Linked DNA regions of Homo sapiens. The protein of the gene in region 4 interacts with the protein of the main gene of each other region in a pairwise test. Each region holds a gene or a part of one and is shown on either strand. Other genes may lie near its edges. The genes, in order: WWC1, SMC3, SAP30L and FEZ2.

Region 1 (7,782 bases), on a different chromosome or scaffold from region 4:
CAGAAACATAGTGGCACTTAGGTGAGCAGCTCACCTTCTTCATCTTGTGTCATTGGTTTTTTTGTTTGCTTTTGGTTTTTTTGTTTATTTGTTTTTGTTTTTTGGAGACAGAGTCTCGCTCTGTCGCCCAGGCTGGAGTCCAGTGGTGCGATCTTGGCTCACTGCAAGTCTGCCTCCTGGGTTCAAGCGATTCTCCTGCCTCAACCTCCCGAGTAGCTGGGACTACAGGTGCACGCCACCACATCCAGCCAATTTTTTGTATTTTAGTAGAGATGGGGTTTCACTGTGTTGCCCAGGCTAGTCTTGAACTCCTGAGCTCAGGCAATCCGCCCACCTCAGCCTCCCAAAGTGCTAGGATTACAGGCGTGAGCCACCACGCTTGGCCTTGGGTCACTGGTTTATAAACTTCATCTCTGTACCTCCTTGTCATCCCACCTGGACTGGGGTGGTATTGGGCCCCTGAACTTGGGGTCCTGAGGGGGTCTCATGTCAACTCTGGGGGTCACTATTGTGGTCCAGCTTTGTATGTTTTGGAAAAGTGCTAATTGGAGGATAGCCACTTGTGGTTTTCTGGAATTTCCCTCCGGCATACCCCATTTTTGCCTTTTAGTTCTGTCTGTGTGGCCTTGGGCAAATCACTTGACCTCTCTGAGGTTTGAGTGCTTGAGAAGTGGGTTGGTTAGATGGTCTTCAAGGGCCTGCCAGCTCTTAAATATTATTTCAAACCCTTCTGCCGCTCTTACCTCTCCAGACTCCATGAGAGGAGAAGGGGGAACAGGGATGGGCTATGAGAAAAAGGAAGAAGAAATTTAACAAAGCTGAAAAGAGCCAAACTTATTCCGGGGGGTGGTGGGTTGGGGAGAAAAAATTCTGCCAAGGTAGTTATATCCCTGCAATTAATTAATGCTGTGAGACAAAAAATTGCACTAAAAATTTCTACTCCGTGTGTGTGTGTGTGTGTGTGTGTGTGTGTGTGTGTTTATTTGCCTTGGATTTTTCCTTACCTGAATCATGGAGATGCCCACCCATTCCCCTGAATTTAAAAGAAGTAAGTCAAATGGTCCTTCAGTCAGAAAAGTGATTTCTTAGCCACCAAGGACAAAATAGCGTCTCTGGTTACCAACCCTAAAGAATGTCTTGGCACATTCCTCCCTCTGGGGCTGAGCTGTTTTGTGTGCTGGCCGGCCAGGAGCTGCTGGGGGTAGGGAATCCAGTTTTCAGCTTCCCCTTTCACCAGGGGGTTGGAAGAGCAGCCAAGCAGCCAGCCTTGCCAACTCTCTCCCCTTCTCACCCAGGGGAAGACTGGGAGGCCGAAATTCCTGAGGATGGTTGTCCCAACAACCGGAGAGGGTCCAGTGGGCAGCTTGGGTCCTGCCCACTGGGCCAAAGGCTCCAGCAGCACCACAGGCTTTTCCTGAGTCAAGGCCAGCCTGGGAAGGTGACAGGCCCTTCGGGAATCAGGTGCTGTGGATCAGGTCTGAACAGCACCTTGGAGCCGTGCTCCTTTTGCGGAGTAACTCTGGGTGCTTTTGTGAGCTCTAGCGAAGGGGCCAGCGTCCTGTGTATTTCACTTCGTGGTATGCAAAACAAATGCACCGATTGTTCTCGGAGGAAGAATAGATCTTTGGGGCTGGCCCTCCCAGAGAAGGTTCCTGCAGCCTGATTCCTTCTTGTTGTGCGATTTGTATTCAGACCTTCTCATAGGAACCACCTGGGAATTCTGGGCAGTTTCTGGGTCTGTATGGTAAGTACCGGAGGCACACATGGCTGGAGAGGCCATGCTGAGAGGATCCAGCAACTTCTCCCATGACTTGAGGATCTTTTGCTAACCCTGTTATTTCAGAAATAATTGATATGGTAGGAAGTCAGGTCTACAGCAGTCAAAAAGTCTAAACCTCTGTCAGGTCACAGACCCTTATGAGACTGATAAAGGTTCAGAACTCTTCCTAGAGAAAAGGTTTTTGCACATAATTTCAGGGACCTCCTGGACCCCAGGTTCATAACCCCTGCCATAGATAAGCTTGGAAATTGCTTGTCACCATGGAAAGGCCTCCTGTTTAGCTAGGTAGCAAATAATGATTGGGTATTTACTATATTCAGGCAGTCTGCTGAGAGCTTTACATAGGTTATCTCTTTAAATCCTCCTAACAACCCTGGGACTAGGTACAATTATTACCCACCTGAACTACCCAATGCTCAGGGAGGCTTGGTAAAGCCCCTCAACCTTTGTGGAGCTGTGATGTGAATACTAGGCGGGCTCACACCAGAACACACATTTCTAACCACTGCCTCATTTTACTTCCTGCTGAGTTAGCTGCAGAATCAAGACCACTGCTCCAGTGCCTAAGGAATTTGGCCTTGGGAAATGGAGCCAAAACAGGCATGATTTCACTTACCTGTGACCATTCTGGTGTGGTCAGGTCATGGGCACCTAGAGGGCAAATGTAGATAAGTGAGTCTTTGGCTCCTGGAATCTTGGATCTGCCACTTGCTACCTGAGTTACCTTGGTAATTGACATATTGTCCCTGAACCTTGCGTTTGCCTTCTAATGAATGGAAAGATGTCCATCAACCATCAAGGGTAGTTATGGGTGATAAGTAAGTGAAGGTAGGTAGGGCAGCAAGCCTGAAGTCTGACATGCAGGGGACACTGAGGAATGCCAGTTCCTTTAACTTTTCCTAGAACGTACCTGTGAAACAGCAGCATCAAATGGATGCTGCATATCTACCCAATTTTGCAGCTGGAGTGGACCTTTCTGTTCGTGAAATCCAGGCCTCTCATTTCACTGATGAAATTGAGAACCAGCCTGGTGCGGTGGCTCATGCCTATAATCCCAGCACTTTGGGAGGCTGAGGCGGGCAGATCACCTGAGGTCAGGAGTTCGAGACCAGCCTGACCAATATGGAGAAACCCCATCTCTACTAAAAGTACAAAATTAGCCAGGCATGGCGGTGCATGCCTGTAATCCCGGCTACTCGGGAGGCTGAGGCAGGAGAATCGCTTGAATCCGGGAGGTGGAGGTTGTGGTGAGCCAAGATCGCGCCATTGCACTCCATCCTGGGCAACAAGAGCGAAACTCCATCTCAAAAAAAAAAAAAAAAAAAAAGAAATTGAGAACCAGAGACAAGTGACTTGCCCAAGGTCACACAGAAAATAAATGCCAACCTCGAGTCTAGTAAAAGTTTCTTTTTTCTCTTTCTCTTATATAAATTTTTTACTAAAAGTCAGATCTATGTCCTTCTCATCAATGATAATAATTCACACATATTTTATGTGCATGGCTGCATTATTCTCCATAATCGTTTTTGATTGTATAGACCAGGAAGTTGCATTCATCGTGCGTCACAATCATTTGTGAGTTGTGTCATAGGAATTTGCTGTATGTCAAATGATTACATTTCCAGTGATTGCAAGTGAATTCCTATTTTTATAATCAATTAAAATGGATTTAGAGTTATTGTCAGTCTAATGTCATATTCCAACAAGCTTTGTTTTATTTTATTTTATTTTATTTTGAGACTGAGTCTTGCTCAGTCACCCAGGTTGGAGTGCGGTGGTGCAATCTCAGCTCATTGCAACCTCTACTTCCCGGGTTCAAGCAATTCTCGTGCCTCAGCCTCCCGAGTAGCTGGGATTACAGGTGCATGCCACCTCACCCAGCTAATTTTTGTATTTTTAGTAGAGACAGGGATTCACCATGTTGGCCAGGCTGGTCTCGAACTCCTGACCTCAAGTTATCCGCCTGCCTCAGCCTCCCAAAGTGTTAGGATTACAGGTGTGAGCCACTGTGCCCCACCCAACAAGGTTTCTTAAGTGAGAGTTATAACCAGTCTGCCAGGGAAGTTACCCAGAACCTCTTTATTCTCCATGCTGCTGCTCTTAATGATCCACTAATACCTGTAGATGTATAATAATAATACTTACATACAAGTGATTAGAGGGCTTTTTATCTTTTTCTGAGGCTTGAGTTTAAGATCTACGTATTCCATGGGAGTCTACCATGCCTGGGAACATCCTATGTCAATTATTAAGAAAGAAATGAGGTTTAAAAACACTAGGATAGATAATAGGGAGAAGCAAGAGATTTGGTAACCCAGAGAAGAATAAAATAATAGTCAATACCAGCATCTATTGAGTGTTTACTCTCTGCTGCCCACTGAGCTAAGCATTCTATTTTGTGACCTCATTTTATCTTTTCAACAGCCATATGGGGTAAGTACTTCAGATGAGGGAACTGAAATTTAGAAAGGTTAAGTAACCGGCCGGGCGCAGTGGCTCACTCCTGTAATTTCAGCACTTTGGGAGGTCGAGGTGGGTGGATCACCTGAGGTCAGGAGTTCAAGACCAGCCTGGCCAACATGGTGAAACCACGTCTCTACTAAAAATGCAAAATATTAGCCAGGTGTGGTGGCACGCACCTGTAATCCCAGCTACTCAGGAGGCTGAGACAGGAGAATCGCTTGAACCCAGGAGGCGGAGGTTGCAGTGAGCTGAGATCGCGCCTCTGCACTCTAGCCTGGGCAACAAGGGCGAAACGCCATCTCAAAAAAAAAGGTTTAGTAACTTGCTCAAGATCACCAACAGGTGTTGCATCCAGGACTGGAGCCCACCTAGCTGGATTCTTGCATCTACACTCATACTAGCTGTAGCCTGGTCTGGCTCTGTCCTGGCTTATTAATCCATCTCAGGGCCCCAGAGTGCCCTGTTGACAGCTGGGCTTGAGAGTTACCATTTATTCTTAAAATGGGTGAACCTGATGTGGATCTCAGGGAGAGACTTTGCTAAGGAGCCTTAACCAGAGAAGCCAGTGAGATCCTCATGGCAGCTTAGGAGACTGTTTGGCATAAACTCCACCTTCTGGGAGCAGCTGGCTAACCAGAGCTTTGGGGATGGGAGAAGAGAGAGAGATGGAGGCAGAGGGACTCTTTGAAGGATGCAGTGTGTACAAGGAGTTCACAGTCCTTTCCAAGTCGCTTGGGTAAATGCTCCCAACAGCCAGGGAATGAGTAGCCAAGGCCGTTCCTCTCTGTCGCCATCCCTCCCCCTCCCGGGGAGAGGGCTTATCCAAACTGACCCAATTTTCCAATTCCCTGGGGTCCCAGATTGCTGTGAGAAGAACACTGCCCTTTTGAAGGGAAGAGAATCAGGTTGCCTTAGTTACCTGGAAGGTTGGCACGCCAAGTTCAGGTGCACGTAAGGAGAAACAGGGCTAGAATAAGTGTGAGTCGAAGGTGGCCACCGTCTTGCTGCACGGTTCCCTCAGTGGCAGAAGCCTTGATCAGGCTTCAGTGGCACTTGCAGGGAATGCCGACCTAATGTCAGGTGGCTGTCCATGACGTGTATCAGGAGCTCTCTCCAGCCACATGTGGTGCTAGGTGATGAGGCTCTGCAGCCTCCAGTTCAGCAAGGGGCCCTGGATAAGAGGAATCCACTTCACTTGGAGAAGTGGCCTGGTGACATCCCTATCACCAGCTCCTCGCTATTTGCTAAGGGAAGCACCTCCACTTGGACAGGGCTGAGGGCTAGATCTGGGCAAAAAACTCCCGTCTTGCCTCTCCCAGCATGGAGATGGCCAGCTGGCTGCACACCTTTAGGTAGAACAGCAAAGGTTCAGTTGCTGCTGCCTCGAATCCGTTTCAGAGTGAGATAAAGAAAGAGAAAACTAAGAAACTGGATACAGTGACATTTTGTTATTAGACCTTCCCCAGCAGGCCATTTAGCCTTTAGTTCCTGAGCAGAAAAATAATAATGGGGTGGCGGGAGGAGGGGGCAGGCGTTCACTGTTGTGTGCGGAGAATATTCTCTAAAGATGCAGGATGGGGAAGAGGGGGTGGAGCAGAGAGTGGGGAGGAGGGAAAGAAAAAGGACAAGTGTGGTGGGTCACATGCCCATTCTCCCCACCCCCCACCCCTTGCCAGTTGCCTGCTCAATGCTTCTACCCATGACATCTCACTGTTGGGAAGAAATGAGATCTTTCAGTTTCAAATGTCTGCCAAAGAAAAGGGACGGAGGCTTAAGTTCTCACTCAATGGTCAGCCAGAAAAAAAAAAAAAAATGAAGCTGCATCAAGATTAGGGACACCTTTGTTGGCTTTTTTTTTCTTCTCTTGCTCCATTCATCACTCTCTGGCAGCGAGGACACCAGGCCAACTGCAGCTGCTGACTTTCCCCAGTCGGCTGCCTGCTGTTGCCCAGGCCTGTTTTGGTAGCAACCCCCACACTGGCTTCCTCCCCGCCCAGTGGTGGTTACTTGTTGGATTCGTCCCTGGGGTAGCCCCTGGGATCCACTGACGGGTAACAGACTTGGAAGGATAAAATGTCAAGATGCAGGCATCAGGTGGCTGCTAGGATGAGATGACCCTGGGACAGCCTTCCAGTCCTACATCTGTCGTGGCTTTTCTTGGAGAGTCGGGCTGTGAGCATTTCACTGTATTCCAGGAATTTCTTCTAAGTGCATTGTTTGTCTTTGTATCACTAACAGTGAGAACAATAACTGGCACCTGGTGATAATGGTGATAAATAATCATGATTGTCTTTAAAGATCCTTATCCATTGTCTGTCACGTGCCAAACACTATTGCTCATCATATTTTTATGGCATTTTGCAAATGAGGAAACTGAGGCCGAGAGACAAGTCAAGTGACAAGCTCATTTTTCCACTATGGAAAAAAATGTGTATGTGTTTGTTGTTCCACCCAAACATGGGATTGCATACCACACGATTCACGATTCCCTGTAGTAGATAAGCTCTCCATAAAGATCATTAGAGGACACTGAGTCAAGTCTGGCTTTGTCACTTTAAAATAGTAAGTGGGACTGGGTGCAGTGGCTGACACCTGTAATTCCAGCACTTTGGGAGGCCAAGGTGGGTGGATCACCTGAGGTCAGAAGTTCAAGACCACCCTGGTCAACATGGTGAAACACCATCTCTACTAAATATACAAAAAAATTAGCCAGGCGTGGTAGCAGGCGCCTGTAATCCCAGCTACTCGGGAGGCTGAGGCAGGAGAGTCGCTTGAACCTGGGAGACGGAGGTTGCAGTGAGTCGAGATTGTGCTATTGCACTCCAGCCTGGGCAACAAGAGCAAAACTTCGTCTCAAAAAAAAAAAAAAAAAGTAAGTGACCTTGAACCAGTTCCTTCTCAGCTATAAAACAAGGATAAGAATAGAACCTACCTACCCCTGAGAGTCATGGTGAGGATATGACATCCAACATAGAAAGTCTTAGCGCCTATCATGCCTTCATATGGGAGCCCTTTCCAGTTAGGCCAACCTACCCTCCTGTGCATTGGTAACGGTAGAGGAACTAAAACCCCTGTTTCTTCCTTGCCAACTCAGGTCTCTTCCTGGCGGGCCATGGCTCACCTGAGCCACACTGACATTAGAGCTCGCAAACCACCTTGGCAGCACTCATTATATGAATCAGTAAACTCCCCTCCTCCCCCAGTCTTATCAGGGGCAAGCCCTTCTTTGGAATTTCTGGAGTGAAGCGACTCTTGCCAGTGAGCTGGCACCAGGGCTGTGTGTGAATCAGGGTAATGAATTGCAGTTGTCATGGCAGAGCTAAAAAGGCTGATGCAGGAACTGGAGGTCTCTGGAACTCATTTGTAACTGCTTTGATATCATGTCCCCTCACTCAGTCTTCCCTTTTGCGCTGTTTGAGAGCTGTTTGAGGACCTGCTGATTTGAGCATGGTGGTGTTGCAGGAAGGGCATTGGCATTTATCACGTCCCACCCAGCGGGGGGTTGGCCATTCACTCAGCAGGTATTTATGGAGTGCCTA
Region 2 (7,782 bases), on a different chromosome or scaffold from region 4:
GTCCAGGCTTGTCTCAAACTCCTGACCTCAGATGATCCACCTGCCTTGCCCTCCCGAAGTGCTGGGATTACAAGTGTGAGCCACTGTGCCCAGGCTAGACCCATACTTTTGGATATCTACATCTATTTTACCATTCTTAAACCCATGGATACCCAAAGTCTCCTATTGTTGGCACGTTCAAACTTTCCACCTTCATTGAACAAATAGGCATTTGAAGCTGTGACATAAGAGTACTGTCTGATGGTCAGTTTTTGTCAGTAACCATTTTTATCTGAAGCACAATGGAATTAGTTGAATATTTGATTCCGTTTTGTCCAGATTGTATTAAAATTAGAAAGCAAACTTATAAGTGATAGTGTGTTATTGGTCTCATAAACTTGACAGTTTTGACAAATCTTTTACTTAGTATAATACTAAAACTACAAAGAGCTTAAAAAAAAAAAAAAAGATGTGCCTACAGTTGTACCATCCCAACCATATTCTGACAACTTTTTATTTTTTGAGGGGGATGGAGTCTCGCCCTATCGCCCAGGCTGGAGTGCAATGGCGTGATCTCGGCTTACTGCAACCTCCACTTCCTGGGTTCAAGCAATTCTCCTGCCTCGGCCTCCAGAGTAGCTGGGATTGCAGGCGTGTGCCTCCACACCCAGCTAATTTTTGTATTTTCAGTATAGACGGGTTTCACCATGTTGGCCAGGCTCGTCTCGAACTCCTGACCTCGTGATCCACCCACCTTGGCCTCCCAAAGTGCTGGGGTTACAGGCGTGAGCCACTGCGCCCGGCAACTTTTTGTTCTTATAATATGCCTGAAGATTTTTGTATAGTTTAATCATGGAATATGATCTGCCCCACCCTGCCCCACCTATACTATTACATCATATTTTTCTTGTTGCTAGAGTCCTAATTACCAAATTAATAGGCACCTAATATTTGAGTTGATATGTCTATATATTTAGCTCAATCAAATATAGATTGTTTTAAAATTTTCACTATAAGTAATACAGTGGCTAATACCTTACTAATAAATGGATAATGTCATATAGCAACGTAGCTTACAGAGTTTGGAGGCAAGCTTGCATGCTATGGAGTCTACCAGAGAGTCATTGAAAGCAGAACTGGGAACTGATTTGCTTTCTCAACTGAGTTTGGAAGATCAGAAGAGAGTAGATGCACTGAATGATGAGATTCGTCAACTTCAGCAGGTAAGTAGACAGCTGACTGGAAAAAGAATTCGTTAGTAATTGGCTATTGTGAAAAGGGCCTTTCTTGCTAACTAGGGCAATATGAAAGAAAAGAACTGAGAAAATATTAAAATGAGGCTTGGACTTTTAATATACATAGGAGTAAATAAGATTTTGTTTTTCTAAACCAATCTAGCTAGGTTAGGATTATACAAGAAATTTTCATTTCCTTAAAATTTAGTTAATTAGCATTACTTATTAGTTGTAAGTATTGCTATGAGTTTGAGCTTGTTAGCCTTACCATATTTATCTTACTGCCTTTACATATTTAATGTTTTGATCAAGCATTTTAATTGATTTTTAAAACTGCATAGATGTAAACTACCAACACCGATTCTAAAAAATGAAAAGCATTTAAAGAAACTGTTTTTGACAGCATGCGTTATAAAAAGGGCCAGCCACAAAAATTTAACATTATGAATTGATAAGAGAAAAATGAAGAAAGTATAGGGCTTTTTTGAAGAATATAACATATTAAACTTCATTTCAGCTCACATGAGCACAAGTACTAGAGAGGACAGCAAATGAGCACCATTCCTGTGTGTGAAATGTACATGCTTATATAGACAACTTTTTCTTAATTCTAGGAAAACAGACAGTTGCTAAATGAAAGAATTAAATTAGAAGGTATTATTACTCGAGTAGAGACTTATCTCAATGAGAATCTGAGAAAACGCTTGGACCAAGTAGAACAGGTGTGTATGTGTTTTTTTTTTTTTTTTTAAGGGCTCCTTGGTGGCCATGACCTATTGCAAGTGGTTATATCAGAGGCTCTGATTGAAAGCATGGGCTTTGGGGACAGAAAGCTTAGTGTCTTGTGGGCCTTGGGTTGGAATTCTGCCACCTAGTGTGTGATTTTGGACAAGTCACTATTTCTAAGCCTCAGTTTCTTGTGTGAATTAAGCATTATCATACTTGTTTTATATAATTGCTATCCTGACACATTCTAAGTACTTTGTTAATATTTTTTCAGTGGTGGTTAGATGCTTAGAAATTTTCTAGTAATTGTGTCTTTTTTTTCTTCCCTTTAATGGATACTTCTAAGTATTTGTAATTATATGATGTATTTATATTTTTTTGTTTTCTTGAATGTTTATTCAGACAATAGCCATAGAAAATGTTGGCAGTCATAACATTTGAAACTAATGGAATTTGTATTTTTTGTTACAGGAACTTAATGAGCTGAGAGAGACAGAAGGGGGTACTGTTCTCACAGCCACAACATCAGAACTTGAAGCCATCAATAAAAGAGTAAAAGACACTATGGCACGATCAGAAGGTGAATTTTTATGTAGTAAAATTTTGTTTATATGCATGTTTTATAAAATTGTTTACTACAGAATGAAATGTCCAAATAGGCAGAAGCATATGCTAATGATTTTTTGTTTTCCATTATAAACAATGTATAGCAAATGGAATTTAGGAAGTTGACTATAAATAGTAACTTTTGTTTTACTGAAATGTTTATGACAATTTTGAGACCATAAATGATTCATTTTGTTGATAAAATATGAAATACCTGACGAAAGTTTCTCATCACTTAGTTGTTAGAAAATAACTATAGTTTATAAGCATTAACATTGAATAATGAAAATTATATATTTGAGTGACTCATATATACTTCTAATTTTGTACTGACTTAACATGGTTCATAAATTTTCACAGAAAATTTTAAACACAAAACCTAAAACCTATTTTGGTAGGTTTGATCATAAAAATCTATACTCAACATATAACACTGGCTTTATAGGTATTATAGCCTAATTTTGTTTCCCCCCATCTTAGATTTGGACAATTCCATTGATAAAACAGAAGCTGGAATTAAGGAGCTTCAGAAGAGTATGGAGCGCTGGAAAAATATGGAAAAAGAACATATGGATGCTATAAATCATGATACTAAAGAACTGGAAAAGATGACAAATCGGCAAGGCATGCTATTGAAGAAGAAAGAAGAGTGTATGAAGAAAATTCGAGAACTTGGATCACTTCCCCAGGAAGCATTTGAAAAGTACCAGACACTGAGCCTCAAACAGGTTGGTTTTAAATTTGAAGTCTTGTTACAAATTGCTCAGTATATAAATTTATTTATATGAATACATATTTTCTCTTTATAGTTGTTTCGAAAACTTGAGCAGTGCAACACAGAATTAAAGAAGTACAGCCATGTTAACAAAAAGGCTTTGGATCAGTTTGTAAATTTCTCCGAGCAGAAAGAAAAGTTAATAAAGCGTCAAGAAGAGTTAGATAGGGGTTACAAATCAATCATGGAACTGATGAATGTACTTGAACTTCGGAAATATGAAGCTATTCAGTTAACTTTCAAACAGGTATGTTTCGCTTTGTAGTTAAAACATACACACAGAGGACAAAAGCTTCCAGCTCTTTTCAGTTTGTAAAGATTTTAAAGCTGTTTTCCTCATTACCAGGTGAATCTAATACATGTGAACAAACCTAGCATATAGGTTTACAGTAACTTGAATGTTTTACACAGCCCTTAGAAGGATCTAGTCTGTTATCCTTGTTCTTAAGATTAAAAAATAATTGGTTGCTTTTAAATATTTTACTTAAGTGTTATATATAATTCTAAGCAAAATTTATATTTCAATCTGCTTTTGTTTTAAGGTATCTAAGAACTTCAGTGAAGTATTCCAGAAGTTAGTACCTGGTGGCAAAGCTACTTTGGTGATGAAGAAAGGAGATGTGGAGGGCAGTCAGTCTCAAGATGAAGGAGAAGGGAGTGGTGAGAGTGAGAGGGGTTCTGGCTCACAAAGCAGTGTCCCATCAGTTGACCAGTTTACTGGAGTTGGAATTAGGGTAAAATACCTTTATATTCCATTTTCCTCAGAGCATTACCATAATAGAATTTATAGTATCTTTTGCAAATCTGATTGGTGCATTATATGCAAGTTACTTTTGAAAGATGGTGGTGATTCTGCCCTTTAGGATATTAACTCATAATATGTTTATTTTTAGGTGTCATTTACAGGAAAACAAGGTGAAATGAGAGAAATGCAACAGCTTTCAGGTGGACAGAAATCCTTGGTAGCCCTTGCTCTGATTTTTGCCATTCAGAAATGTGACCCGGCTCCATTTTACTTGTTTGATGAAATTGACCAGGCTCTGGATGCTCAGCACAGAAAGGCTGTGTCAGGTACAGTTTCAGTACAGTTTTGGTTTTGTATTTAACAATAAGCTGGTAATATTTGCTGATGTATATATGAAAAAATCAAACTCAGGCAGTTTTGAATTTTAGTAAGAGTAAAGATAGTTGCTTTTTAAATTTTCAGATCTGCTGAAAAGAAATTTGTTAAAGCACAATTTTCTTTTTACAGATATGATTATGGAACTTGCTGTACATGCTCAGTTTATTACAACTACTTTTAGGCCTGAACTGCTTGAGTCAGCTGACAAATTCTATGGTGTAAAGTTCAGAAATAAGGTAATTTTATTTTACATTGAGTTTAAGTTTGTATTTATTCAATTATATTTGTTGAATTCTGATTTTATGTTACTTAAATAGTGAAAGAAAACTTAGAAAGTCTTTGCTTATCTGATGTCTTTGTAAAGAAAGAACTTTTCCTTCAAATAACTATGAAGTTTAGCAGTATTTTATGGCGTTGCATTGGTTTTATTTTCATTGGCATTAATAAACAATATCTTTCTGTCCAGTCTATTCAATGCTTCTGTAATGCACAGTCTTTAACAATTATATATGTTCATTTGTATAGACTGCATAGCTCTTCCTGGGTGTCTTCCCAACCTTAAAATTCTTGATGAAATAGCAAAGTAATAGAAAGTGAACAAAAAGGTAGTTTAGATGTTTAGGCATGATATTTATTTCTTCAGAGCATTAAAATACATATTTTTTAAATCTATGCATTGAACAAACACCACTGTAAATAAAGGTTTTATAAGTCAGTGCTTCAGAATTATTTTCCTTCATATGTAAAATATAGGTGATAGGCCGGGCGCAATGGCTCATGCCTGTAATCCCAGCACTTTGGGAGGCCAAGGCAGGTAGATAACCAGGTCAGGAGTTTGAGACCAACGTGGCCAGTATGGTGAAACCCCCGTCTCTACTAAAAATACAAAAATTAGCTGGGCATGCTGGCGTGCACCTGTCGTCCCAGCTACTTGGGAGTCTGAGGCAGAATAATTGCTTGAACCTGGGAGGCGGAGGTAGCAGTGAGCCAAGATGGTGCCACTGCACTCCAGCCTGGGCAACAGAGCAAGACTCCATCTCAAAAAAAAAAAAAAAAAAAAAAACTAAAAATTAAAAAATGTAGTTAAATGTAGTTGATAGGCTGTATATATTTACCCTATACAATGTAAACACTGATGTAATTAACAGATTTTTGTTTTTAACATTTATTCTTCAGGTTAGTCATATTGATGTGATCACAGCAGAGATGGCCAAAGACTTTGTAGAAGATGATACCACACATGGTTAATTGGAAAATACTACCTACTGGTTTGGGAGATGTATATAGTAATATGATTCTCATACCCAGGAACTGTAAATTTAAACCTAAATATTTGGCCAATAGTTTTCAGACTTAAAGCATCATAGTCCTTTTATATTTGTCTTTGTATTTTATAAGATACTCTGTAATGTCATGTTTGTACTGATAGTTTAAGAATTTAATTTCCTGTACAACTTTTTGTAAAATGTTCTGCTCCTATTTTAAATGTTTTGAAACATGCTAAATATTCTTTCCTAATTATTTTATCACTTATACTACCTTTTTTATAGCTTCAATTAAATAATCGGTTTTATGACTAATATAGTGTTTTATGTGGCTTTTCATTTGTCATAGTCTCTTCCAGTGAGAACACTAATCAGATTGGATGTAAGGCCTCATTTTAACTTAATCACCTCTTTAAAAGACCTGTCTCCAAATACAGTTAAATTTGAGGTATTGAGGGTTAGGACTTCAACATGTGAGTTTGGGAAGGGAAGCACAAAATCAGCCCCTACCATGGTATATTTATCATTGATACATTACTATCAACTAAGCTCAAGATTTTATTCAGATTTGACTAGTTTTTCCACTAAGGCCCTTTTTCTTTTCTAGGATCCCACAGAGGATACATTACATTTACTTACATCTCCTCTAGTCTGTGACAATTTCTCTGTCATTGTTTATCATATCTTGACAATTTTGAATAATATTCACATATTTTGTAGAATGTCCCTCAAATTAGGTTTGTCTAATATTTTTCTCATGGTTAGATTGGAGCTAATACCACAGAAGCGAAGTATTCTCATTACCTCATATAATAGTACATATTATTAACATGTTTTATCACTGATGTTTACCTTGATCACCTACCCAACATTGTACTTGCCAGGTTTCTTTGTTGTGAAGTTACATTTTTTTCCCTTTCCATACTACTCTTTTCTTTGAAAGTAGGTCTTTAAGCACTGGGGGTCTCCTGTGACCCTGGAAAACTACCTCAATAGTCCTCGTAGCTTTTTGTAGATTCTTTGAGATTTTCTACATAGACAGTCATGTCATTTGCAAGAAAGAGGCAGTTTTATTTCTTCCTTTTCAAATATTTACCTTTAATTTCTTTTTCTTGATTTCCCCTGGCCTGAGTTTATACTGGTTATCTGCAGGAGAATTTGTTAGGAGCTACTCTTCCATCATTGGAAACCAGAAATACCTAAAGAGATACTTTTAAAATAAAGAAATAGTAATGGGACTTTAAATTGAATTTAAAAATGTGAGTTTACTTTGGGTTTTCATTTTGACTGGCTGAATCTTTAAATGTTCGGTGTATTATTTATACTTTGTAGCTTTGCTATAACATAACTGATCTATAATAGAGAATTTGGTATATGTTCTATCTATGACTACATTCAAAGGGTTACGTAACTATAATATCTTTCTAATATTTCTACCATTTTTCTTACACATTTACCCAAGAATTTTTCTCAAACAACTACCTAAGAATATTCATCATGAATGCTTGGTGTATAGTTTACGATTTGTAGAGTTGCTCTGATATGACCAACCCCTTATAATACAGAATTTGGTGTAAGGTAAGTTCCAGGATTCAATTCAAGGGATGTTACAAACATAACATCATTCTAGAACTTCTTAATATTGTTCTTAAGCATTTCCCCAAGGATATTAGTATAATGAAATGCCAGTAAATTTATAACAATAAAGCATCTAAATAATGAAACAAAATTTTTGTAAAAGCCTATATTCTTTGCGATATCTTAGTCATGAATTAATTCTAATGAGACTGAATAGAAAAATGTGACAATCCTGAGCATGCTTAACCCAGAAACTTAGAGGAAGGACAGACATTTACCCAAGGAGTTAGCCAGTGATTCATAAGAAAATCTATGCTTCTCTTTGGCTGGATAGTCCTTTCCTCAGAGTAGTACTGATTCTTCCACTTTGAGATTTTGTTAATACTGTTACAAATACATTACATTCACCATAGTGGAATTGAAGAACATATATTTTAAGAGATGGTGGGGGGGGTCTCATCCCATCACCCACGCTGGAGTGCGGTGGCAGGATCA
Region 3 (6,339 bases), on a different chromosome or scaffold from region 4:
TTTTGGTAGAGATGAGTTCTCCACTGTGTTGCCTAGGCTGGTCTCGAACTCCTGGCCTCAACTAATCCTCCCACCTTAACCTCCCAAAGCATTGGGATTATAGGTGTGAGCCACCACGCCTGCCCCACAATTTTTTAAAGACACATTTCTTCCCACTTTCAAGGCCTGAGAGGTTTGGTAGCAGCTGGCCAACCAGAGCAGTCCCAGTCTCTCCTCCATGAGTATGACTGTGAAATCATGCCATGACAGGTGGTTGGCTGCCACTGAAATAGAACTGCACCTTGGAAGAGTTGTAGGTTAAAAAGCCACTTTTGGATCCTGGAAATTAAACCACCTACATCCCTGGGGAGGAAGGGCAAAGGGCACTCTGAGTTCCGCACATGGCAGGAAGTTCTTCAGCATTTGTCATTCCCGCCACAGCATGCAAACAACTCCATTCGCTTCTTTGTACAATGTAGAATTTGCGGTGTGATTTGTGCATGGTTTAAGGAACTTTGGTATTTTCCCCCCACATAGACTGTGAGTCGACACTTCAGGAACATACCTGTGAATGAAAAAGAGACCCTTGCCTACTTCATCTACATGGTGAAGAGTAACAAGAGTAGACTGGACCAGAAATCGGAGGGTGGCAAGCAGCTTGAGTGAGGATGAAGCACATCTTAAAGGAATGAAGTGTAATGCTTGATGCACAGGTGATATCTACTACATTTAAGCCCATAAAGACTGTTAAATATTATTGTAAATAAAAAAGTTTGAATGATGAATACTGTAAATCTTTTTGGTCAGGAGGATTATATTCTCATGATTCAGCATGTGTATAGAAAGACTTTCTTTTACGATAACTCTGGACTAAAAAAATCAGGATCATTAAAAGAATTAAAAACTATGTATTTCAGCATTCAACAAAGCATTAAATCAATTCTACTGGAAATGTGGGATAAGAAATATTTTGGTAATCACCTTATCCACCAGGCTGCCACGTGTGAGCTGTAGCTTGGAATAGCAGCAAGGTGCAATTGGCCATGGAAGTGCATGAGCAGACCCACATCTGGACTTGCATGCTGCCCGCTGGCGACATAGATATCCCGCCCGCTTTGTTGCAAGCTTTGTCATTTATCAGCAGATCAGTTTGACACTGGTCCCCCTCACTCACCCTGTGCCTTGTACACAGTAGGCACTCAATCAGTAGGTATTGGCTAATTGAGCTGTCACTAATAGTGCCAGCCTTGTAACATCCGCTTCACACCTCTCATGACTGAGACCTCTGCCATTTCTGTTGCTCACCACTTAACTGCTAGAATGTGGAGGAAATCCTGATGCACCAACAAGGAAGTTTCTGATCAGATAAGGATTTCAGGACAGTTGCATGTGCAAAACTATTCGTTGAGGTTCCAGAAACACTGATATAGAGACCCTCACAGAAGATACGGTCCCTTATGCACCCCACTATGCTTCACTCTTTGGGGTGCAGTTAGATATTATGACTTCAGCCAAGCTTCTTGGTAATAAATGCATTGACACACTGACATATTTAGTAGGTTGGGGCAAGTATTTTTAGAAGTTTTCATCCTAAGTTCACAACCACCATGCAAGCTGCCAGGGGCCATGTGATTCCTGCCCAGAAGTTCAGCTTAGGATTGAAAGTCTGGCTGGCCTTGACTCCCTGGGCTCTGGTCATCAGCAAATCATGAGTTTGGGCAACAAAGGTCAATTCCATCTGATGCTCATTTTTGTGAACAATTTGCCTCCCTCTTAGGGAGAAAGATTGCTAAAATAATTTTTGAAAATTACCTAATTTTTTTGTTGTTCAAAACGTTGAACTCCTCAATCTAATTATATCAGAGCCAAAGTATCCTGTGAAAACAAAGCTTTATATCCAAAAATGTGCTTTTGCAAAATTCTTTAATCTGTGTAATGGAGGGCAGAGGGTATGGGGTAGGAGGGTGGGAGAAAGAAAAGAAAAGAATTTGGATTCTAATTTATGACCATCTTGACATATGGTCAAAGGTGTCATTTTCCTACTCAGTTTCAATTCTGAGTTAATTTCTTAAGCCTTAAATAATAAGAACAATGGACAGCCTGGCCTGGCAGAGAGTTTCACAGATGACTTAATCTGAGCACCATCACAGAGAAGTCAGGACTAAACCCCCTACTGAGCAGGGCGGCGGAGTGTCCAAAGGTCTCAGTTCTGTGGAGCAGAGTACCACGCTTTCTGTGGAATGGGGACAGGGTCACCACGCTCACTAAAATGCAGTATGTTCCATTGCAGCAAAGCTTTCGCCTGTGTTCAAAATGCATGTCTAGCAGATTGCAGCCTTTTAAATTAAATATATATAAATGGTTGTATATAGAATATACTCTGGACTGTGAGGGCATCCTATTTTGGTATGCCTCCTGGCTGTGGATGGCATGTCCAGTGCTCTGTGAGTGTTTTCAGTCATTCACATTCACTATGTGTTTAGAGATTCTCTCCCTGCTTACAGCTGAAGGATGTTGATACAGGCATCAAGAAGGCTGAGGGGCAGATGGGGCCTGCAGGTTAAGGCATTGTTAACTTGCTCCATGGAAATGTCCATATCTTAATGAGTAAAAAAGTGTATTTTTCTGATACGTAAACCAGAATTGTGGGCGTGTAGGTCACATCACTATTTCTTTAGCAGCAAATCTGTTTTCCCAGTTGAGAGAGACAATAGCTTCTGCACAAGAATATATGATGGTAGGATCCATCTGTTCAATTGTGTCTGAAAGAATCTTTATTCCAAAGCGAAACCTGGGGAAATGTTTTACCTTCAGCCAGATGCTGTGTGTGTACTTGGGTCCCTTGTCTTTCCTCTAAGGAGAGGTGCTTGTGGAAAGTGGAGGTTGTGGGCATCTTTTCAACCTTTTCAATCTGACCTTTCAACAGGTCAGGTGAGAGAAAAGACAAAGCTATTTGAACCTATGTTTTTCTTATGTCCAGAAATCTGTTCTTTCATCAAACCACTAAACCACTCGCCTTAGCCTCTTCTGCAGTTTCTGGTGGCTCTATCTGTGGGCAAGGGACTCCTGCCTGTGAGAAGTGGCCAGGCCCTCCAGAGCAACGGGGTCTGGCTTCAGGGAGCAGTGGGGTGTGGGGAAAGCAATGTTCATCTTGGCTGCTCCATTTTTATACCATCCATCAAGGACTCTTGCGCTTCTCTCCACCTGTGACGTAGCAGCATTGCCTTCTTTCCTCTTGGTGCTTCTGGGCAAAACTGGAATTTGAAATCCAGAACTGGCGTTGTCTTCTTAAAGAGTATGGTTCCTGCCTCAGTTCCAGCCTGGTATGGTTCTTTGATATGCCCTGAAGGTTCTCACATGGAAACATCAGTATCCTGCCATTCATGTTGTTTTAAGATGTTTTAAAAACCAATGGACAAACTTCTTGCTTCAAGGAACAAACTCTTAGGTTGGCAACAGCATATAAAAAAAAAGATCACAGCTGAATCTCATGAAAGATTAAAAACCAAAGGATTCAAGACCGGTGTTGTAAAATGAAGAGGAATTTTACTTACATGTTACAGCTGCCAAGTTTTTAGATGTTCCTGTCATAGCTAAATAGTCACTGCTAGCCTTTCAGAGAACAGATAGTAACAATTGTTTGCAGCTGCAGTGTTGCATCTAATTTTGGTGTTTAGGCTTTTTATTTTGTGGGAAGCTTTTTGTTAATATCCTGCAGGGCAACTGCCTGTTGGGAGGGAGAGGATGGAAGAAGGAGCTTACTCTGGGGGCCTTGCCTATTGAGGGAGGCTGTTGCCCAGAGCAGTTGCTTCATGGAAGTCATCCAAAGGCGCTCTCAGTCATTACAATGACAGGATCTCAAAGTTGGGAAAGGGCTGTTAAGTCATCCAGTCTAGTCTCCACATAGGTGCTGACATTCTGCCTACAACCATCCCACCAAGGGGTTGAGCAGTCTGGACTTAAACACCTCCGAGGACAGAGAACCCACTACCTCGTGGAGAAGCCTGTTCTTTGTAAACCTCTGGCTTTTCTATGTTCTCTGTAATTTCCATCTTAGTCTCTGCCCCATGGGGGCCACATGGGACAAGTTATTTTTGGCAAAGCACCTAATTGCTGGCACTGTCCCAAAGCATAGCGTTTGCCTTTTGGAAAGAAACAATGCTAGGACATGGACACTTTGGTACACTGTCCTTACCCCTGAGTATTAGTCCACTCAGTTCCTTGTTGGAGAATGTTGAGAAAACCCTACTGGCTGGCTTGTTTCTGCCAAAGCTTGGGGAGAGGAGAGGGGGATGAGAAGATGTTAGCAGCCTGCTAAACCTCAGACAGATGAGGACTCAGTTCTGTGCTTGCCCCACAAAAACGGATGCTCACATCATCAGGAAATTGTTCAGCTGGAGGATTTATAACTTCGTTGCTTTGCATGAAGTTTAAAGTTTTCATGGTTGCCCAGGGCTTGTACCTTAGATTCCTGTAAGGACTTTGCACTGTTTTTGCTGAGAAAACAACGCTTCAGGACTTAAGGTCTAAGCGTCAGAGAAGTGCCGTATTTTCAAGGTGGAAAGTCTGTTAAGCTTGCTGTTGTCCAATCATCCGTTTTTAGAGATGGGGAAACTAAAACTCAAAAAGATGTGCCTGAGGTCATATGGCATTATCAGAACCAACCTCTGGCCCTCTTGACCTGTCTAGCATTCTTTCTTTCTGACCTATAGGATGACTCTAATTCAGTCTAAATCGGCTGCCCTCAGATTCTTGAGAACTTAAAATTGAGCAGAAATTCCCAAGGCCAACCTAGCTCTCAGGGACCAACCTGCAGAACTCAAGATTGAGCGAAATGTTTAGGCCAGTTGAGTTTTGCAAAATGAGTGGTAAGGGAAAACAGATCTAGCCTGTTATTTAAAACCAGGGTTCAAAAGCCCTATTGGGAGAGGTAGTATTGTCCTAGCATTTAAATTCTCATGAAATGTGCTTGGTCTGTGATCTCTTGGTCAGATATCTGCCTTCCAGGCGATCCTTTGAGGTTGTGTAATTCAGCTGGCCCTGGCTCCTGGTCCCTGTTACTGAGCTGGGCAGTCGAACCGAAGGGCAGATGAGCTCAAGATCATGCCTTGGGAAGCATGGTGCTCTAGGGGTGCCTTTTTATTCCTTTCATTGTATTATAGACTGTTTCCAAGTTTATGGTTAGAAATGGTAAAGTGGGTCTGGTGTTTTGAGGTAGAACCCAGCCTAGGGCAAGATATGAACTGTTCTTGAGGTAGAAATGTCTACAGTCAGTTGTTTCATCTAGCTTGCATCTTAAAACACAAACCCTTCAGTTGCTTTCACTTAATGCACACATTTGCCAATGACAGAGGGTTATACAGGATCCTTCTTTTACATTTCTATTGTCTGCTACGCTCATCAGAGTATATTTTGGGGTACAAGGTTTTGGGGGTTTTTTTTCCCATTTTGTAACTGCCTTATTGAAAAGTAAGTGCCCTTCCATTCCAGGCCTCCTCATATTGTACTTGTTTCCTGCCAAATCTGGGGGATCATTTGTATTTTAACTTCGTAATCTATGGCTCTGTACTGTTGAAAGGCTCTCAATTCTGTGGGGTCTCCTTAGTATGTATGTGACTTTTCATGTTGCAATATCACACGATGGGATGGCCCGACTTTTGCTCTTAATAAATAATCTGAATGAGTAAGAGACCCTCTGTCTTCCCTTTGAATTTTTATATAGAATTCAGATGCTTTCACTTCCACATTTGGCCCCTGGCAGTGTATTACAGTGATTAATGACAGTGGTCTTTCCTCCCAGCTCCAAATACTAGCACCTACATCCCCAGTGCACACTGAGTTTAGATCCCAGAAGGTTAGGCCCAAGTTCCAGTACTGCTATCCCATTCACTCACCTGGAAAGAGACTGACTGGGTCCAACAGCCTGAGTCTGGAGCTCAACTTCCATGTAGTGTACTGGATGCACTGGGCAAATAGAGTTCTCTCTCTGGGTCTTCAGTTCTCCATCTAAATAAACTGTATGGAGGATTGATTGCACATTGAAATATCTGCAGAGGGTGAGCTGCAAACTGGAAAACTCAGGTCCCTTCTAAGGGCAGCCACTACTCAGCTCCCCGCTACTGTAGCCTTATGGGCACACCAGCCCTGTGTGACCGGGTCTTGCAATTTGACTGGAGAAGCTGGAAATTCAGATCTTCATGTAAACATCCCAATGTTTAAATGTCTCAAAGACATTTTTAACAGCGTGTGACCTGGAGTTTCTTCACCTACAGTAGAGTCTTGCTATTTAAAGTTGGTCCATCATCTGGGCACTTGTTGGAAATGCAGAATCTCCCAGCCCCTCCTGCTGGCCGTCTACTG
Region 4 (7,782 bases):
GCAGGAATCACCGGACCCAGAAGATGATGAAACCCCTACACAGTCAGATCGGCTTTCAATGCTTTCCCAGGAAATTCAAACTCTCAAGAGGTCTAGTACCGGCAGTTATGAAGAGAGTAAGGGAGCCTGCTGAAATCAATGATTTCTGTGCTTTTTGTCTGTATCAAATGTATAGTATGATCATCTCCAGAAAGCTTTGATTTCATCCTCCTTCTGTTTGTGTTTGTGTCCAAATTTACATTTTTGTTGTTGTTGTTGAGACGGGATTTCACTTTTTGGCCCAAGCTGGAATGAAGTGGCATGATTTCAGCTCACTGCAACCTGTGCCTCCCGGGTTCAAGCAATTCTGCCTCAGCCTCCCAAGTAGCTAGGATTACAGGTGCCCGCCACCACGCCTGGCTAATTTTTACATTTTTAGTAGAGACGGGGTTTCGTCATGTTGGCCAGGCTGGTCTCGAACTCCTGACCTCATGATCCGCCCGCCTTAGCCTCCCAAAGTGCTGCAGTTACAGGCGTGAGCCACCATTGCCTGGCCCCAAATTTCCTCTTACAAGGACAGCAATCATATTGGATTAGGGTCTATCCTAATGACCTTATTTTAATGTAATTACCTCTTTAAAGACCATATACTGTAACATTCTGAGGTACTTGGGGTTAGGACTTCAACACATGAATTTTGGGGAGGACACAATTGAGTCTATAAGAAACCCCATCATATTTGAAGTGTAGAATAGATATTCAGTAATTATTTGTCAAATGCAATTCCTGTTTGTACAAATAGTCTTGTGTGTTACTATGAAGAATTTTGGGAACCATGGATCTGTTTGACATATGTGAGAATAATGAACTCTAGAAACTCTACAGTTGATTTTCATGAAAAATGTCTGAATAAATATAACCAGCCTGTGAACAGCCTGAGGCTGGTTGGAAGGTGTGTATCTAATCATTGCCATATGACTGGTCCCTTCCTTGAATAGGCACTGATGGGGTCTGTATCTGCTCAACTCGTGTTGTCACCTAGTTTTATCTTTATGGCATGCCCAGTCCAAAGCTTAGTTACCTAAAGACCTTTGGGTTGTATGGCTTCAACATACAGATGGTCAGACAGACCAAATTCTTTCAGATGGTCTGATTTGGCCATGTTCCTGTAGGTATGGGCTAAACAGTGTTAACGTCCTGACTCCCAAATACAGTCCTGATACCTGATACAGATACTAAAATCTGTATTGGTTTGCTAGGGCTGCCAGAACAAAGTACCACAGAGTGGGTGGCTTAAACAACAGGAATTTATATTCTATAGTTCTGGAGGCCAGAAGTCTGAGATGAAGGTGTTGGCAGGTTTGGTTTTTTTCAGAGGCCTCTCTCCTTGACATGCAGATGGCTGCCTTTTCCCTATGTCTTCACGTGGTCTTCCTACTGTGTCCTGATCACCCTATTTTATAAGAATACCAGTCATGTTGGGTTAGGGCCTATCCTGATGCCCTCATTTAACCTTAATTTACCTCTTTAAAGACCCCCTCTCCACATTCTGAGGCCCTGTGGGTTGGGACTTTAACAGTGTCCTATCTGTCACAAGGGGCAGAAGTGCTGAGAAAAGACTGAAATGGGGTTTCAGGGAATATTGTTCCCTTTTGTCTTCCCAGTTTTTTTAGTCCATTCTTGCACTGCTATAAAATGCCTGAAACTGGGTAATTTATACGAAAAGAGGTTTAATTGGCTAATGGTTCCACAGGCTATACAGGAAGCCTGGTAGCATCTGCTTCTGGGGGGGCCTCAGGGAGCTTTTACTCATGGTGGGAGGCAGAGCTGGAGCAGGTATCTTCACATGGCTGGAGCAGGAGGAAGGGGGCTGGGGGGAGTGCCACACACTTTTAAACAACCAGGTCTCATAAGAACTCTGTCATGAGAACAGCACCAGGGGGATGGTACTAAACTGTTAGAAATTGCCCTCATGATCCAGTGACCTCCCACCAAGCCCCACCTCCAGCATCACATTTCTGTATGAGATTTGGGTGGGGACACAGATACAAACCATATCACCAATTTCAACAAAATTCACAGATCAGGACTTATGTAATTAAGTGTATATTTAGTTTAATTCTTTCAGATCAACTCCTTTCCTGTTCAGAGATATCCCAGAACCCTGCTGAACGGCTTGCAGTTTTTTGTCAGCAGGTGGATTCTGTACTTTCCCTCGACTTTTGTGTTTGTTCTTTTCCGTGTACAAGCCTTCACAGTCTTGACTGAAGTATTATTCATGCAATGATTTATTTGCACAAGTAAAAACTTTTGTTAGACTTTCTTGCCAGCAAGCTGAGAAGTGACTCACCTGCCCACTTACCTCTACTCAGATCTGATCTCCAGAAGTTGTAGAATTCTGAGAAGATCACCCACAGTCAATTTAATTGCTTGGAATATGATTTTTGCTCTTTGGCATTGATTACATAGGTGTTTATTTAGTCATTCCTAGTGACTACTCTGTTTTGCTTCCTTGAAATGTTTTTGTCTTAATATCTGCTGTATTTTGCTTTTGGTCACAGGAGTGAAAAGGCTCTCAGTGTCTGAGTTAAATGAAATCCTGGAAGAAATTGAGACTGCCATTAAGGAGTACTCTGAGGAGCTGGTGCAGCAGTTGGCTTTACGAGATGAACTGGAGTTTGAAAAGGAAGTGAAAAACAGCTTTATTTCTGTTCTTATTGAAGTGCAAAACAAACAGAAAGAGCACAAAGAAACAGCAAAAAAGAAAAAGAAACTAAAAAATGGCAGCTCTCAGAATGGGAAGAATGAGAGAAGTCATATGCCCGGCACAGTAAGTGATGTTTTGCAGGAGGCGTCGAACACTGGAAACAGGTTCTGTGGTAGTCCCAGCCTTTGGGGCTGGTGGCAGGTGCGACAGGTTGTACATGGGCAGGAGTGTTAACACTTCTAATCAGAGCCCAGTGGGATTTTATTCCAGAATACCGCTGTGCTCAGCTTCTTCAGAAAGTCGTTTTCTTGACTAGGGTGTACTGGTTATCTGAATAATACTGAAATGTTTAGCAAGGATGTAAGTGGAAGGAAGAGGGGGCAAAAAAGGAGAATGTCTTGAAGAAAAGAAGCTTTAGCAAGTGAACATTTTTACCACATCAAAATGTGAAGAGTGGTTATGTATATTTGGCTAGTAGTTTTTTTCTTATTTTTGCTGAACTCTTACGAGTTGTGTGATAAGAAATTAGAAGGGGTTTATTTAGAGGTATCAGAACTCTGCTCAAGGCACAAATTGTTTGTAAACAGGTTCCTCCTGATTTTTCAGTGAGGTTGGAATACAAGAAGGTAAGTGACATCAGCCATGTGGCCTAGTATTTGGCAGACTAGACTATTTCTGACTGGTGAAAACAAGTTTAGAACATCTGAAACGCTGACCCTTTGATAAGATTTTTTTGTGTTGAAGTCTTGTGTATTCCCACCTTGATTTTGTTTGTGTGTGAAGAAATGTTGGTTTTATTTTTAGAGTATGATGGTTGGGTAAAGGGATCTCTTTTTCTAAATGGGACATCTCTTTTTAATTTGTGATATCAATAACATGGTCTTACAAATCACAAACTAGCTATTATGGCTTGCAATAATATGAGTTCTGTTTTTGATAAAGTCTGATTTACTTATCTAAAGAATACTTAGCAGAGAAATAGATCTCATTAAGCAGATGCTGATGGAATCCTGGAAATACAGTTCTAGGATGGTGGGCCACCAATGAGCAGTTAACACAAAAAGAGTCTTACCATATAGCTCATTTATTATGCTGTAATTAGCCTATGAATAAATCCATTTTTTTCAGTGTAATGTTCATTTGTATCTATTTTGAAAGGACATCGTGGCTGGGCACGGTGGCTCGCGCCTGTAATCCCAGCACTTTGGGAGGCCGAGGTGGGCTGATCACCTGAGGTCAGGAGTTCGAGACCAGCCTCAACATGGAGAAACCCCGTCTCTACTAAAAATATAAAATTAGCCGGGTGTGGTGCTGCATGCCTGTAATTCCAGCTACTCTGGAGGCTGAGGCAGGAGAATTGCTTGAACCCAGGAGGCGGAGATTGCGGTGAGCCAAGATCGTGCCATTGCCCTCCAGCCTGGGCAACAAAAGCGAAACTCCATCTCAAAAAAAAAAAAAGGACATTGCTTATGCACTGACTTTGAAAAAAGTTCTCAGGTATCTATTATTTTTAAGAAATGGCAGTATTGATTGAATAGGTGTTTATTTAGTTATTCCTAGTGAGTACTCTGAAAAAAACCCAAAACCAACCCACATTTGTTTGAATATACAATCCTAGAAAATTTGCTTTAAAATATTAGGGACACTATTTTGCATTTGCATCTCATATTTTTAGAACTGGCACCCTTTAAATTGCCCTGTTATGCAAGTGAGATTAAATAAAATGCTTAGTTAAAAAGTCATAGCATGGTTGGTAATTTCTGCCTATTTGCTTTTAGGGATTACATGTAAATCCTCCATTTATTGCTGTTAACACTTGGCTGAGAAAAGTAAATTTATCCCTAGAGGGGTTTAAAGGCTTCGTTTTGTAACTCCCATGTAAAAAGGGTTAGAGTAAATCTATTGTGTAATTTTACATGGCATTTATATTGAGAAATGGATTTGGCAAGGCAACAGTTAGGTCTTACTTCAGCCTTCATTGGTCTTGAAATAGATTCATAGTAACAGTAAATATTTTTCATAATATTTGAACTTTTGAAGTTGCATTTTGCCTGATTTACAATTTGTGTCAAAAATTTTAATCAGTTCAGTAATGGCACGGCTAAGCTTGCAGTACTAGTTTCCTGTATCCTTTTAAAGCCTAAAATGCGGCCGGGCGCGGTGGCTCACGCCTGTAATCCCAGCACTTTGGGAGGCCAAGGTGGGCGGATCACCTGACGTCAGGAGTTCAAGACCAGCCTGGCCAACATGGTGAAACTCCGTTTCTACTAAAAAATACAAAAATTAGTTGGGCGTGGTGGCGCATGCCTGTAATCCCAGCTACTCGGGAGGCTGAGGCATGAGAATCGCTTGAACCCAGGAGGCGGAGGTTGCAGCGAGCCAAGATTGCTCCACTGTACTCCAGCCCGGGCAACAGAACGAGGCTCTGTCTCAAAAAAAAAAAATAAAAAGCCTAAAATGCCAGGGAAAGACCTTCCTATCTGTGACACAAGTAGGCTGGAAGGGTGATTCTGAAAATAGTGGTAGGTTGCTCAAAAGAAACCCAAAGTGAAATAGGCAGTTGGATAAACAGATTCCAGGAGCTTGCCAAACATTTTACCAAGCATTTTATATCACATGCAGTCTTGGCAAGACCTGGTCTCTATGAGTTTGCTATTATCAGTGATACTAATTCCTAAAAAATGGTGACCTCCTTAGAATTGTCATATGTTACCTGTTTTTCCAATAACATAAGTCACTTTTTTTTTTCTCCTGCCTGAGATATTTTTGTTTTATTAGCAGGACTTGAAGTTTTTCGTTAAGTATAGAATAGCTTCCATTTTTCTTCATGTATGTTTCACTGAAGCAGTACATCAATTTGTAGTTGGCATACCACTTAATCTAAAATTGTTACCTTGTTCTCTTTGGTCCAAAGATACTCTAATGAAATATTGGAGTGGGTATAGAGCAGAGTTAAACTTGGAGACAGATTTTGTTTTAAATATTTGTTGTGGTGAAAAAAAAAATAGAGGGCATAGGGATGCTATTTAGAGCATTGGAAAATTTCATTAGACCATGAAAATATGTGAAATGTTACAGAAAGTATTATCTTATAAAAGTGAAATATGATTTTGATTGGAGTTTTAGGTTTAAAATAACCATAATGCTGTATGTTGGGTAAGATGAAACAATATTCATTCATTCAGCAAGGATTTGTGGAGTGCTTTCCTGTGGCAGGTGTTCTTCAAGATACAGTGGGCAGGATGACTCATGATGGTAATTCTAGGACTTTGAGAGGCTGAGGTGGGAGGATTCCTTGAGCCCAGGAGTTTGAGGCCAGACTGGGCAATATAGTGAGACCTTGTCTTTACAAAATAAAAATTATAAAATTAGCCAGGTGTGGTGGCATGCACCTGTAGTCCCAACTACTTGGGAGTCTGAGGCGAGAGGATTGCTTGAGCCCAGGAGGTTGAGGCTGCAGTGGGCCATGGTCACACCACTCCACTTACAGCCCGACCTTGTCTCAAACAAAAAACAGAAAAACCACAGTGGTGAATAGAATAGAATAGATGAGGCCCATCCCATGCCTTCCTGGAGCTTATAGTCTAATGACGGAGAAAGGCAATAAACAAGGAAAAAATGAATAGATGATGGAATTTTAGTAGTAAATAAAGGCCATGAAGAAAACCAAAGGCTGGGTGAGGTGGTAGATGGTGATGCTGTTGGGAAGCTGTTTTGGAGAGTGTCACTACACCACTGCTTCTCCTCATTGACAAGGGAGCCTGCCTAGTCCCTTTCCAATTCTCCGTTTGAAGAGGAGGTTAAAGGAGTGGACCTCTTTGGGAAGTGCAACTCAAGAGAGTGGCAGGCTTTATATTTCCTCTGTCCTTTTTTGCAGCATCTGGAGGAGCAGAGGATGGGGGGTTAGAGAGTGGTTAAAGGGCACTGTCTGTTTATCACTATGGTGACCTACATGTATTTCTTTGTGCTGACCATGCTGTTTTGGGTGACACTTCTTTATATTCAATGCTCTTCTTCTGGAATCAAATTCCTTACCTGCTGCTTCTGTCCACTTGGGGGATTTTTTTTTTTTCTCACTCATCCTTTAAAATCATGGCCAAGCATTGTCTTCCTTTCTTAGAACCTTCCTTGATGACTCTGTCCGATGCAGAGTTGACTACTCTCTCTTTTTAGAGGGGTTAGTGTTACTCCTCTTTAGTATTTCTATTATCACTGTTGTATCATACTGCAATTTTTTGTTTTCATGCCTATCTCTGTTTTATGTCCCTAATGATAAGAAATTTAACTTTACTTTCTCGGTATTCGTAGATCCAACCTTAGGTACCTAATAAATTTCTGCTGAATGAATGAGTGAACGAAAGATAAACTTGCAAATATATATTTCTATATTGGATCTTTCTGCCAGGTGTCAAACCCATGGACAGTGAATATTGTCTAAGACAATAGAATATTGACTAAGAGCTTTGGGTTAAGAGCTGTGTTTGAATCTTCGTCCTACATACAGACGGCTTTGAATTTTGGAGAGATTAAATGAAATAATGTATATAAGATTAGCAAACATAGCAAACACCATGAGTAAATGCTAATTGTTATATATGTCCAACTGCCTACTAGACAATTCCCTTTGGATATCTTGTAGGAGTCTGAAATTTATACTATTAAACCAAAGTTACCATTTTCCTAAAATTGAATTATTTTCTTTTGGTTAGCAAAACTAGTTTATCCACTCACTGAAACTGATAGAATTTCCAAGTCAAAGAATATAGAGTTTTAAATGGCTTTAAATGACCAGCTTTTCAAATTATTGTGTAGAAGTGTAGCCCAGTAGAGCGTAAGAGTGACCATTTTCCCACACCTCCCGCCAACAGGAGATATTAAGAGCTTTTGAATATACACTGCACAGGCAAACAATGGGTTTGATCTGTTGACCATTTGTATTCTTTTATGAGTTGCCTATTATGTTTATATGCCTGTTATGAGGTGTTTTCATATTTATTTGTGAGGGTACACATACTTGTGATATTGAAGTACCACACTGTGTTGTAATCATTGGCTTAAACCTCTCTTCTAACAGAGTGCAAGCTCTTTAAAGGCTC

What was found.
Region 1: the proteins of FEZ2 (region 4) and WWC1 interact in a two-hybrid assay, tested with the Homo sapiens proteins (one study listed by BioGRID).
Region 2: the proteins of FEZ2 (region 4) and SMC3 interact in a two-hybrid assay, tested with the Homo sapiens proteins (one study listed by BioGRID).
Region 3: the proteins of FEZ2 (region 4) and SAP30L interact in a two-hybrid assay, tested with the Homo sapiens proteins (one study listed by BioGRID).

What each region holds. Positions count from the first base shown.
Region 1 is NC_000005.10:168,294,541-168,302,322, forward strand, and holds part of WWC1 (protein KIBRA), read left to right. Parts: exon of another isoform or gene 1-1,744; intron 1,745-7,782. UniProt on the Homo sapiens protein: Regulator of the Hippo signaling pathway, also known as the Salvador-Warts-Hippo (SWH) pathway.
Region 2 is NC_000010.11:110,598,611-110,606,392, forward strand, and holds the end of SMC3 (structural maintenance of chromosomes protein 3), read left to right. Parts: intron 1-1,043; coding exon 1,044-1,202; intron 1,203-1,828; coding exon 1,829-1,936; intron 1,937-2,411; coding exon 2,412-2,520; intron 2,521-3,026; coding exon 3,027-3,274; intron 3,275-3,355; coding exon 3,356-3,568; intron 3,569-3,863; coding exon 3,864-4,055; intron 4,056-4,214; coding exon 4,215-4,392; intron 4,393-4,573; coding exon 4,574-4,680; intron 4,681-5,620; coding exon 5,621-5,692; 3' UTR 5,693-7,438; downstream 7,439-7,782. UniProt on the Homo sapiens protein: Central component of cohesin, a complex required for chromosome cohesion during the cell cycle. The cohesin complex may form a large proteinaceous ring within which sister chromatids can be trapped.
Region 3 is NC_000005.10:154,455,384-154,461,722, forward strand, and holds the end of SAP30L (histone deacetylase complex subunit SAP30L), read left to right. Parts: intron 1-516; coding exon 517-645; 3' UTR 646-5,670; downstream 5,671-6,339.
Region 4 is NC_000002.12:36,573,624-36,581,405, reverse strand, and holds part of FEZ2 (fasciculation and elongation protein zeta-2), read left to right. Parts: coding exon 1-116; intron 117-2,540; coding exon 2,541-2,809; intron 2,810-7,782. UniProt on the Homo sapiens protein: Involved in axonal outgrowth and fasciculation.